Homo sapiens: one gene and its partners. The protein of the gene in region 1 purifies or fractionates together with the protein of each later gene. This does not show direct contact. Each region holds a gene or a part of one and is shown in the gene's direction. Other genes may lie near its edges. The genes, in order: ZNF277, UBE2T and RNF123.

Evidence for each region.
Region 2: the proteins of ZNF277 (region 1) and UBE2T purify together in Homo sapiens (affinity purification with mass spectrometry; 3 studies listed by BioGRID and IntAct, with this or other methods). This does not show direct contact.
Region 3: the proteins of ZNF277 (region 1) and RNF123 purify together in Homo sapiens (affinity purification with mass spectrometry; 3 studies listed by BioGRID and IntAct, with this or other methods). This does not show direct contact.

The regions. Positions count from the first base shown.
Region 1 is NC_000007.14:112,204,509-112,208,258, forward strand, and holds the start of ZNF277 (zinc finger protein 277), read left to right. Parts: upstream 1-2,186; 5' UTR 2,187-2,208; coding exon 2,209-2,299; intron 2,300-3,750. Other genes in the region: DOCK4 (dedicator of cytokinesis protein 4), read right to left, coding at 865-994. UniProt on the Homo sapiens protein: Probable transcription factor. Involved in modulation of cellular senescence; represses transcription of the tumor suppressor gene INK4A/ARF, perhaps acting via the Polycomb group (PcG) complex PRC1.
Region 2 is NC_000001.11:202,335,333-202,339,082, reverse strand, and holds part of UBE2T (ubiquitin-conjugating enzyme E2 T), read left to right. Parts: intron 1-3,264; 5' UTR 3,265-3,328; coding exon 3,329-3,437; coding exon of another isoform or gene 3,438-3,441; intron 3,442-3,750. UniProt on the Homo sapiens protein: Accepts ubiquitin from the E1 complex and catalyzes its covalent attachment to other proteins. Catalyzes monoubiquitination. Involved in mitomycin-C (MMC)-induced DNA repair.
Region 3 is NC_000003.12:49,692,454-49,696,203, forward strand, and holds part of RNF123 (E3 ubiquitin-protein ligase RNF123), read left to right. Parts: intron 1-3,750. UniProt on the Homo sapiens protein: Catalytic subunit of the KPC complex that acts as E3 ubiquitin-protein ligase. Promotes the ubiquitination and proteasome-mediated degradation of CDKN1B which is the cyclin-dependent kinase inhibitor at the G0-G1 transition of the cell cycle.

The DNA.
Region 1 (3,750 bases):
TAACAACTACTAACATCTACTCCTTGCCAGTAAAGAGGCTGGCAAAGACTCCTCTGACACTTTGAAGGAGGGAAAGCTGGAAACCTTTCCCAAAGGTGGGTTCAGGTCAAACTATTGTCTTGGTAATTAGTCACAATCCAGAATGGAAGCTAACGTGAAATGTGGGAATGATTTTGTTGAATCCTACAGTCCTTTCAATGGACCCCAAAGTCCTATCCCCAGGCAAAGTTGGGAAAAAAAAAAACAAAAATCCCCTCGGACTACGACTCCCTGGGAAGGCTTTCCAGATGTTTTAAATTGCAGGAAAATGAATTTAGAACATAAGCAGATATCTACACATCACCTAAATCACTAGACCTGTCCTCAATTTTAAAACACACACACACACACACACACACACAAAGTACACCAGTCGGCAGAACAGGGCATTATAGGAAATAAAGAGTGTTAGTAAAATCCATAATGCTTTCTGTTAGACCTTCTGGGAGGTTATAATTGCATTTGGCCGGCTGCAGCCTTGTCGGAGAGCCTGGCTTCTTAATAGTCTCAACCCTAAAAGGAGTAACTGTCAAGGGGCGACCCAGCTGAAATCAAACAACAAAAACGGGAACTGTAACCCGCCTGAAATGGGAGGAGGAAAAGGAAGGGAGACTCCTGTATTCATCAGTCAACATTAATGTCCTTTGTTGTTCACCTTTACACAGAACAGCGAGAGCTATCCTGTTCCTTTTTCTCCGAACGCCAGTGTCAGGGTATGCTTTCCTAAAAGCTATCTCCCTGCCCCCAAGAACCAGGCTTTCCGATCCCCCTCCCCATTTATCACTCAGCAGCCCTGTACCGCCACACCGCCCCCACTGCGCTCACCCGGGGTCGAGAGGGTGGCCAGAAGTAAAAACACTGCTGAAATACCCGTTCTTCTCCAAAGACCAAAGAACCGAGCGGCGCAGATGTTGAAATTTACCAATGCCCCCGCCCCGCAACATACACACCCCATAAATCCGGGATCGCAGAGAGGGAGGAGGGTCAGAGAGGGCTCAGCTTGTCAGAGCGGCTCTCTCCAGGACCCTGCCACATTCCACACTCCGGGAATGTCGATCCGAGCCAGAGGGAAGGGTTTGCGCCTCCCTACTGTTTTGGGGGTGTTCTCTCTGCCCGAGTGTTGTTGTCTCCCTCTCCACCCAGAGGAACCGTTGCAGCTCCCTGTCGCTTTGGGGAAGAAGGGTAAGGAAGGAGAGAAACCCCATTCGCCTCCTCTTCCAACTTGACACACACACACACACACACACACACGCCCAGTCGCCACTCCAAACTCCGCAGGCAGAGCCCGAAGCTAGCGGGCCGGCCGCGCGCTCCCCCAAGCTGTCCCGGCGCTTCGGGAACCAGTGCGGGGCGCGCCGAGCAGGCGGTGCGGGGCGAGAGCCTGGTGCGCAGCCCTCTGCCTGGAGCTGGCTCGGCAAAGCCCCGTACCAGCTGCGCGATGCCAGGATTAGGCATTTTCAACCGGGCGGAGCGAGAGGGGCGCGGGGGCAAGGACGAGAAATGCGCACTCGCTCGGGCCAGAGCAGAATAAAAGTTCGCCCCGCGGAGACTCACCCACGCCGTATTTCTCGTGCTCCGTAGGTATCCACATGGCTAAAGGGGCTCCGGGGTCTTCAGGCTTTGTAATCCCCGCGCCCCTTCTCCGGCTCACAACAATGCACAGTCCCCGAGCAGCGCTGCAGTGCCGGAGCCCAGCGGCTTCGCGCGGGCTGCGGGCGCTGGGCAGGATCTGCGCTGGAGGCTCCCGAGCCCAGCGTTGACACTGCGCCGCCCGCAGCTCTCCCGGCGGCGGCTGCTCACAGTCCTCCGACGCGCTCCCGGGTACCCGGCGGCGCAGTCATTGTTCTGATTCACTGAACTAAGCGAACACGCCGGGGCACTCTCCGGCGCACCCCCGCCCGCCAGCGCCTAGTCCAGCCCTCCCGTCCCAGGGCCCCGCAGCACGCTGGGAATTGTAGTTCTTGGCCTCCCCATCCCGGAAGTGGGCGCGGCAAATGTGGTTCGGGGCGGGGATTCAGTTTTACTGATTGCGTCCTATTGGTCCAGAGCGCGGCGTAGGTGTGGAGAAAACATTACGTCGACGGGGAGTTCGCCTCCAGTAGCGTTTCTACTGGTGCCACCCCGCCTCCGACCCGCCCTGCGGCCCTCCCTTTTCTTTTCTGCCGGGTAATGGCTGCTTCCAAGACCCAGGGGGCTGTCGCCCGAATGCAGGAAGACCGTGATGGGAGCTGCAGCACAGTCGGGGGTGTAGGTTATGGGGGTGAGTACGGTGCCCCGGAGGCGCGGCTGATGTGTCTTCCTTTCTCTATGACCGGGTGTGCAACGGACCTCTGGTCTGACCCTAGGAGCCCTTCAGCTCTGGGGCCACCTGGGTTCGACTGGGCCCCACGGGTGGTGGCCCAGCGGGATGGGTTGGAGCCGGTGGCGGCTACTTGGTTGGGGCTGCCCGGGGATGGCGGAGAAAATGCCATGGGATGGCGGAGAAAATGCCATGGAATGGCCTTCCCCTCCGCCGGGGAAGCTCCCTGAGCGTTTGTCTTCTGGTTTGGAGCTCCCAGCTTTGAGCTAGCTGCTGAGTGGGTTTGGTTCAGATCTGGTTCGCGCGCGTGTGTTTATAATTTTGGGATTAGCAGCTCTTTCTCCTCACCAGTACACTGCCTTGGTTTGCTTGGTTTGACCTCGCAGGTGTGTTTTATTTAGCTTCCGGAGTATTTCCAGTCGCAGACTGGTGGTCACTGCTCTCCACTCTACAGATTTGCCCAGTTTGTGGCTGAGGTGACCTCTGAAGGGAAAGTGTGTGTATCTCACAACCTCCCTGTAGATGGTTAACTGCTCTGGGTGTTCTTCAGATTTGTATGTGGAGCCTGAGAGATCTTCCCAGTCTCTGGGTCCTTAGAGAAAGAAAAGGAAAGTGATAGATAATTTGCACTCGTGGCTTCAAAGAACATTTGAAAAGAGTTTTGAAAACCATCACAACTTTGGCTGTACCTGACTTTCAGGTTGTCCTCTGATCCACTGTAGGAATAAAAAACCAAATTTTGAAAGCTGCAGGTGGATTGTGTTTAGGACTCTTTTACCTTTAGTCTATCCCTCCCCCATTCCCCCCACCCCATTTTTGTCTTGATGTGTAATTTAGCACAAGTTGTCTTTTTCTGATGAACATGGTTTGGGGCTTAAATATAGTTCTCAGACTGTTGCGACTTTGTTTTTCGATTTATTTGTTTTTGCTTTCACAGTTAAATTGATATCATCTTAAGTATTTACCTCAGCGGCACAGAGTTGAAGTGCAGTTTTTTCCCACTTCCCAACAGTGGAACTCCCTACTCTGAAATTATTTTAGTACCTCTACCAAACAAATCTTTGGTAGTCTCCTGAGTTAAATATTGAATTTAACACCCTAATGGTTTATTTTTGGGTTGGTTATATATTGGGCTATCTGATGGTAACAGACTATTACGGTTTCCTAGATTTTCAAAGTTCCAGAGGGCTACCAGTTTAAGATCTAAACTGGTGAATTTATCTCACAGTCTAACTTATTTTAAAAAATGGCCGGGCACGGTGGCTCACCCCTGTAATACCAGCACTTTGGGAGGCCGAGGCGAGTGGATCACAAGGTCAGGAGTTCGAGACCAGCCTGGCCAATATGGTGAAACCCCGTCTCTACTAAAAATACAAAAATTAGCCGGGCGTGGTGGCGGATGCCTGTAGTCC
Region 2 (3,750 bases), on another chromosome or scaffold:
AAAAAGGAGGCAATACTCCCTAACTCATTTTAGGAGGCTAGCATAACCTTGATAGCTAATAAAGACAAAATTAGAAAGGACAGTTATAGGCCAGTCTTACTGATTAGCATAGTGTTAAAAGCTTTCCCTTTAAGGTTAGAAATCTGACAAGAATGCCAACTATCAGCTTTTCTTTCTTTCTTTTTTCTTTTTTTTTTTTGGCTGTTGTTTAGACAGGGTCTCACTCTGCCTCCCAGGCTGGAGTGCAGTGGCACAATCATGGCTCACTACAGCCTCAGTCTCCCCGGGCTCAGGTCATCCTCCCACCTTAGCCTCCTGAGTAGCTGGGATTACAGGCTCATGCCAGCATGCTTGGCCCAGCTATCAGCTTTTTCATTTAACATTGTACTAGAAGTTACTGTCAGAATAGAAGGCAGGAAAAGAATTAGAAGGGAAGAAATAAACTTGATTATATGTGGATGACATGATTGGCAGTGTGGAATTACCATTCCCAGACTGCTCCCCACCCCAAATAGATTCATCATTAGCATTACTAAGGCTTTGGTTAAAAATCAGTTAGATTGGCTGGGCGAGGTGGCTCATGCCTGTAATCCCAGCACTTTGAGAGGCTGAGATGGGTGGATTACCTGAGGTCCGTGGTTCGAGACCAGCCTCACTAACATGGAGAAACCCTGTCTTTACTAAAAAAATACAATATTACCTGGGCCTAATGGTGCATGCCTGTAACGCCAGCTACTCAGGAGGCTGAGACAGGAGAATCGCTTGAACCCAGGAGGTGGAGATTGCGGTGAGCCAAGAGCACACCATTGCACTCCAGCCTGGGCAACAAGAGCAAAACTCCATCTCAAAAAAATAAAAAAAAATCAATTAGATTTACATGTATCAGTAAGAAATGGGTAGAAAATAGTGTTTTTGAAAAGATAGCAAAAATATAAATACTTAGAAATCAGTCTAACAAAAATTAGATAAAGCTTTATAGAGAAAATTATAAAACCTTTGGAAAGCATCAAAAAAAAGACTGAAACAGCGTGTTCATGGATCTTAGGATTCAATATCATAAAGATATCAGTTATCTCCAAATTGATCTATAGCATCAATAAAATTACAATCCAAACCACAGAACCCTGTTATGATTTGGATTATAATTTCAGATATACATATTTATGTATATATTTATGGACTTATGAACTGATTCTCAAATTTATATGGAAGAGCAAAGAGTCAAGAATAATCAAGTCATTCCTGAAGAAAAAGACCAGGTGGATAAGCTATAGTAAAACATCACATTGTACACCTTAAATATATACAATTTGTATTTGCCAGTTATACCTCAGTAAAGCTGGGAAAAAATTTAAATAATAAAAAATGAATAAGCTATAGTAATTCAAACAGTGGAGTATTGTCTCAGAAATAATCCACTTGACCAGTGGAACAAATTCAAGAGTCCCAAAACAAATCCACACATATAGAAATTTAATTTATAGTAATATCAGCAGGGAAAGGATGGACTGATTCAGTAAATGATGTTAGAACAATTGACTATTCATATGGGGAAAAACTTTAAATTGGACCCCCACCTCACTCACTATACATAAAATTCAATTCCTAGTGGATTCAATATTTAAATTTGAATAGCAAAATTATAAAATATTTGAAGGCTATGTAGGAATATCTCTACATTTGGGGGTAAGGAAAAATTTAATACACAAAGTATAAATGTAAAGAAAGAGATTTTAAGATTGATTATGTTAAGAGTATGTGTTTATTGAAAGACACCATGTACAACATGGAAAGATAAGCACAAACTGGGGGATATTTGTAACACATTAAAGGATTGGTGTTGGCTGGGCGCGGTGGCTCACGCCTGTAATCCTAGCACTTTGGGAGGCTGAGGTGGGTGGATCACGAGGTCAGGAGTTCAAGACCAGCCTGGCCAAGATGGTGAAACCCCATCTCTACTAAAAATACAAAAAGTAGCCGGGCGTGGTGGCGGGCGTCTGTAATGCCAGCTGCTCGGGAGGCTGAGGCAGAGAATTGCTTGAACCCGGAAGGCTGAGGTTGCAGTGAGCCGAGATCGCACCACTGCACTCCAGCCTGGGCAACAGACCGAGACTCCGTCTAAAAAACAAAAGGGATTAGTGTCCTTTGCTTGGTTAGTAAAGAGAGAACTAGAGTTGAGAAGAGTGTTGGGTGAATATGTGTGTAGGTGTTGGTTTTAGGTGAGAGAGACTTTGAGCATATTTGAACATTGAGGGTAAGAAAGATGGAATAATTGATGGAATGGTATCCCTGAAGATTGGGAGAAGGTGGAATCCATAGCACATGGAGAGAAACTCGGACATTTAACATTTGTTTGTACCTGAGAATGTTGACTATCTCTACCATTCTTGCTCTCACAAAGCATATGTAGACTTCCTCACAACAGCAAATATTTGTCAAATCCCTTACTATGACAGGCATGCTAAGGCTACAATAGTAAGCAAAATCAGACCCAGGCCTGGCCTCATGAGTTTATAATTTATCAGTGGAAACACCCATTATTTAAAACCTTTAGTGTTTTTATTTTTTGTAGAACTTTTTGCATTTTTAGTTCTTTATTTTAAAAATATATTTGCTTGTATAGATAAACGTTCACAAGAAGGGAGTGGAAAAACTCAGATTCCCTTGTCAGAATAGAGATTAATAAGAGGAATCTTGGACTGGCGTGGTGGCACACACCTGTACTTCCAGCTACATAGGCGGCTGAGATGGGAGGATCACTTAAGCCCAGCAGGTGGAGATTGCAGTGAGCTGAGATTGTGCCACTGCACTCCAGCCTGGGTGACAGAGCAAGACCCTGCCTCTAAAAAAAAAAAAAAAAAAAAAAAAAAAAGCTGGGTGCATTGGCTCACGCCTGTAATCCCAGCACTTTGGGAGGCCAAGGCAGGCGGATCACCTGAGGTCAGGCATTTGAGACCAGCCTGGCCAACATGGCGAAACCCTGTCTCTACTAAAAATACTAAAATGAGCTGGGCATGGTGGTGCACGCCTGTAATCCCAGCTACTCTGGAGGCTGAGGCATGAGAATTGCTCAAACCCAGAAGGTGGAAATTGCAGTGAGCTGAGATGGTGTCACTGCCCTCCAGTCTGGGTGACAGAGTGAAACTGTGTCTCAAAACAAAAAAGAGGACTCTGTCCCCCACCCTCACTACATTGAAGCTGTTTGCTGAAAACTTCATAGTCATTATTGCTGATGATTTTATGGTCACCTCTTTTCTCCTCCAGTGCATCCCAGGCAGCTCTTAGTGTGGAGCAGTGAACTGTGTGTGGTTCCTTCTACTTGGGGATCATGCAGAGAGCTTCACGTCTGAAGAGAGAGCTGCACATGTTAGCCACAGAGCCACCCCCAGGCATCACATGTTGGCAAGATAAAGACCAAATGGATGACCTGCGAGCTCGTAGGTATCAAATCATGTATATGATGAAAGTCATGACCCTATTGAAGATTGTGCTGAAATAAAACATTTTGTGTATTCTTCTAAAGTAAGGAGCAGTTATAAGGTCAGAGTGCCCTACCATCTTTCTACCCAAATTTGTTTACATTTATAAAAGGTTTGCTTGACATTTCTTGCTTCTTTGACTTTTTATTATACCTTATGCTGATTTATAGCCAAGATTTAAAGCAGTGAAGCAGTGTTTAGATCAAAGATAACCATCTCAAATATCTGTGAGGCCAGATGGGAAACATACATGATTAGAATACTGCGGTCC
Region 3 (3,750 bases), on another chromosome or scaffold:
ATCCCCTCAAGCATTTATCTTTTGTCTTATAAACAATCTAGTTATACTCTTTTAGTTATTTTTAAATGTACAATTATTATTTACTATAGTCACTCTGTTCTGCTACCAGATAGGTCTCATTAATTCAATTTTTTTGTACGCATTAGCCATCCCCATCTCCCCACAAGCCCTATACTACCCTTCCAAGCCTCTGGTAACCATCCAGTACTTTGCCTCTATGAGTTCAATTGTTTTAATTTTTAGCTGTCACAAATAAGTGATAACATGCAATGTTTGTCTTTTTCTGCCTGGCTTATTTCATTTAACATAATGACCTCCAGTTCCATCCATGTTGTTGCATATTACAGGATCTCATTCTTTTTTATGGCCGAATAGTACTCCGTTGTGTATATGTACCATGTTTTCTTTATTTATTCATCTGTTGATGGACACTTAGATTGCTTCCAAATCTTGGCTATTGTGAACAGTGCTGCAACAAACATGGGAATGCAGATATCTCTTTGATATACTGATTTCCCTTCTTTCAGGTATATACCCAGCAGTGGGGTTGCTGGATCATATGGTAGCTCAATTTTTAGTTTAGTTTTTTTTTTTTTGAAAAATTTTTTTTTTTGAGACGGAGTCTTGCTCTGTTGCCCAGGCTGGAGTGCAGGGGCACAATCTCAGCTCACTGCAAGCTCCGCCTCCCAGGTTCATGCCATTCTTCTGCCTCAGCCTCCCAAGTAGCTGGGACTGCAGGTGCCCGCCACCATGCCCAGCTAATTTTTTGCATTTTTAGTAGAGACGGGGTTTCACCGTGTTAGCCAGGATGGTCTTGATCTCCTGAGCTCGTGATCCGCCCACCTCGGCCTCCCAAAGTGCTGGGATTACAGGCGTGAGCCAGTGTGCCTGGCCTTTTTTTTTTTTTTTTTTTTTTTTTTGAGATGGAGTTTTGCTCTTGTTGCCCAGCCTGGAGTGCAGTGGCATGATCTTGGCTCACTGCAACCTCTGCCTCCCAAGTTCTAGTAATTCTCCTGCCTCAGCCTCCCGAGTAGCTGGGATTACAGGCACAAACCACCACACCCAGTTAATTTTGGTATTTTTAGTAGAGATGGGGTTTCGCCATGTTGGCCAGGCTGGTCTCGAACTCCTAGCCTCAGGTGATCCTCCCACCTCGACGTCCCAAAGTGCTGAGATTACAGGCATGAGCCACCGCACCTGACCAATTTTTAGTTTTTTGAGGAACCTCCAAACTGTTCTCGATAGTGATTGCACTATTATAATTTACATTCCCACTAACAGCATACAGGGGTTCCACAACCTCGCCAGCATTTGTTATTGCCTGTCTTTTGGATAAAAGCCATTTTAGCTGGTGTGAGATGATATCTCGTAGTTTTGATTTGCATTTCTCTGATGACCAGTGACGTTGAATGCCTTTCCATATGCCTGTTTACCATTCGTATGTCTTCTTTTGAGAAATGTCTGTTCGTATCTTTTGCCCATCTTTTGATGGAATTATTAGTTTTTTTCCTATAGAGTTGTTTGCGTTCTTTGTATATTCTGGTTATTAATCCCTTGTCAGATGGGTAGTTTACAAATATTTTCTCCCATTTGTGGGCTGTCTCTTCACTTTGTTGATCGTTTACTTTGCTATGCAGAAGCTTTTTAACTTCATGTCTGTTTATCTTATAATGTATGTAGTTCAGATTATGCTGTATAGAAAACTTTAAAAAAATTTATCACCTTCAGTTCTTTTCTTAAAACGTTTTTATTGAGCTATGATTAATATACAATAAACTACACATACTTAAAGTGTACAATTTGATAAGTGTTAACATATATATAAAACCCGTGAAACCATCACTACCATCAAGGTAATGGACATGTCCCTCACTTCCAAAAGTCTATAGAAGTTTGCATCCTATTTTTATCATCAAATGTTATCCCGTGAGTATTTTTCCCCATTATCAATTTATCTTACTGAGCATCTTTAGGGCCAGGGGGTCTGCTGTGGCCCATACCAGTGCCCTAGTTTGGAAGGACTTTTGCTTTTGTAAACAATGCTGTGAGGATGCCCAGGGCTGGAGTCGTGTGGCTAGAGTGTTTGAACTGCAGTCACTTTTAAGACTGTTGCCAGATTACTTCTTCAAAGGATCAAGTAGGTTCTCCCTCCCTGCAGTGAGGCACGGTTGTCCCTGTCTCTCACCCCCTCATCAGCCTTAGCTGTTCTGTCTTTTACGACTTCTGCCCTTTAGGCAGGTCCAAAAGGCAGCAACGTTACCTGTTCTATTTAAGCAACTGTGGTGGTCAGAAAGTGCCTGCTTGCAGAGAGTTCCTGCCCACCCCCACCCCATACTCAGTCCTGGCCTGTTCTCAGAGCCATCTGATCCCTACCTCATGTGATACCAGAGATGGTCCTACTGCTGCTGCTGCTGCTGTGGCCGCCAGGAGAGACAGCAGGTGGTAGGGCTGTCAGTCAGTGGTTGTGGGTATTCAGGGCCCTGAACTGGGACCTAGGAGATCCAAAAAGGTCAGGGAAGTTGCTGGTCTTGGCCAAATGGGCAGTGCTGTAGGCACTCAGTGGTGGCTGTCTCAGGCCGACTGCCCACAGATATGTGCAGTCTGCTCTCAGGATCAGGCACACGACTTTTGGGGTCAGGTACAAGAGTAGCTGCTCCAAGTGTGGGCTTGTTAAGAACTGTTTTCTTTTGAGACAGGGTCTCGCTATGTCACAGTCATAGCTCACTGCAACCTCAAAGTCCCAGGCTCAAGGAATCCTCCCACCTCAGCCTCCCACATAGCTGGGACCACAAGCACATGCCACAGCACCCAGCTAATTTTTTTTTTTTAAGAGACAGGGTCTTACTGTGTCACCCAGGCTGGTCTCAAACCCCTGGGCTCAAGTGATTCTCCCACCTCAGCCTCCCAAAGTGCTGAGACTACAGGTGTGAGCCACCATGCTTGGCCTGTAACTGCTTTTGAGGAAGGCTCCTTTATCCTTGGGCCCACTGGGGTATTCAGAGATGGGGTTGGCTTTAGCCTTCTATGCTACTAGCTGAGCACCCCGACTGCATAGCCACCACCTGGCCTTGGCCTGGGACAGAGCAGCAGTGGGGAGGGGCCTTTGTGCATCTCTGCTCCTACAGCTCAGGGCTGGGAGTGGCTTACACTGGGGAATATGTGATCCCTGAGCCTGGGTAGTGGCTACTTTGTCAGGGTGCTTGTCCAACCTTTGTCCCCTTCCAGAGCTTTCTGTCTGTGTGGATGAGTGGGGTAAGAACTGGCATTAAAGGTGGAAGAGCAGGTGGTGGCACCCTGTGGGCAGCCAGGTGTGTAATGGGCCTCTGTTCTGCCTGAGTCCTGCTGGTTACCACCACCTCACTCCCTGCTATTCTTAGCAGCTGAGCTCAGGACAGCACTGACTGGCATTAGACAGTACCCTTTTCCCTCTAGGCCTGTGTGTTGAGAGGATGAGGGGGCCACCCAGACAGATTTTTCCCAACTCCTTTGGCTCGGGTAGGTGGGTCATGTGCTCCGCTGACCATTTATGGACTGGCGGGTACAGGACAGAGCCATCCAGCAGCTCAGAGGGCTGAGCCTTTCATACTTCCAGAACATGTCCCATTCAACACAGACTCCCCTGGCTGGGTGGTGGCGAGACTGGAATCTGCCCCAAAGGAACCACAGGCCTAGGGGCAAGGGTTGGACTAGGTGGCCTTGGTACTGACCACTTTGGGAACCAGCATTTCTCCCAGCCTTCTTCTTCCAGAC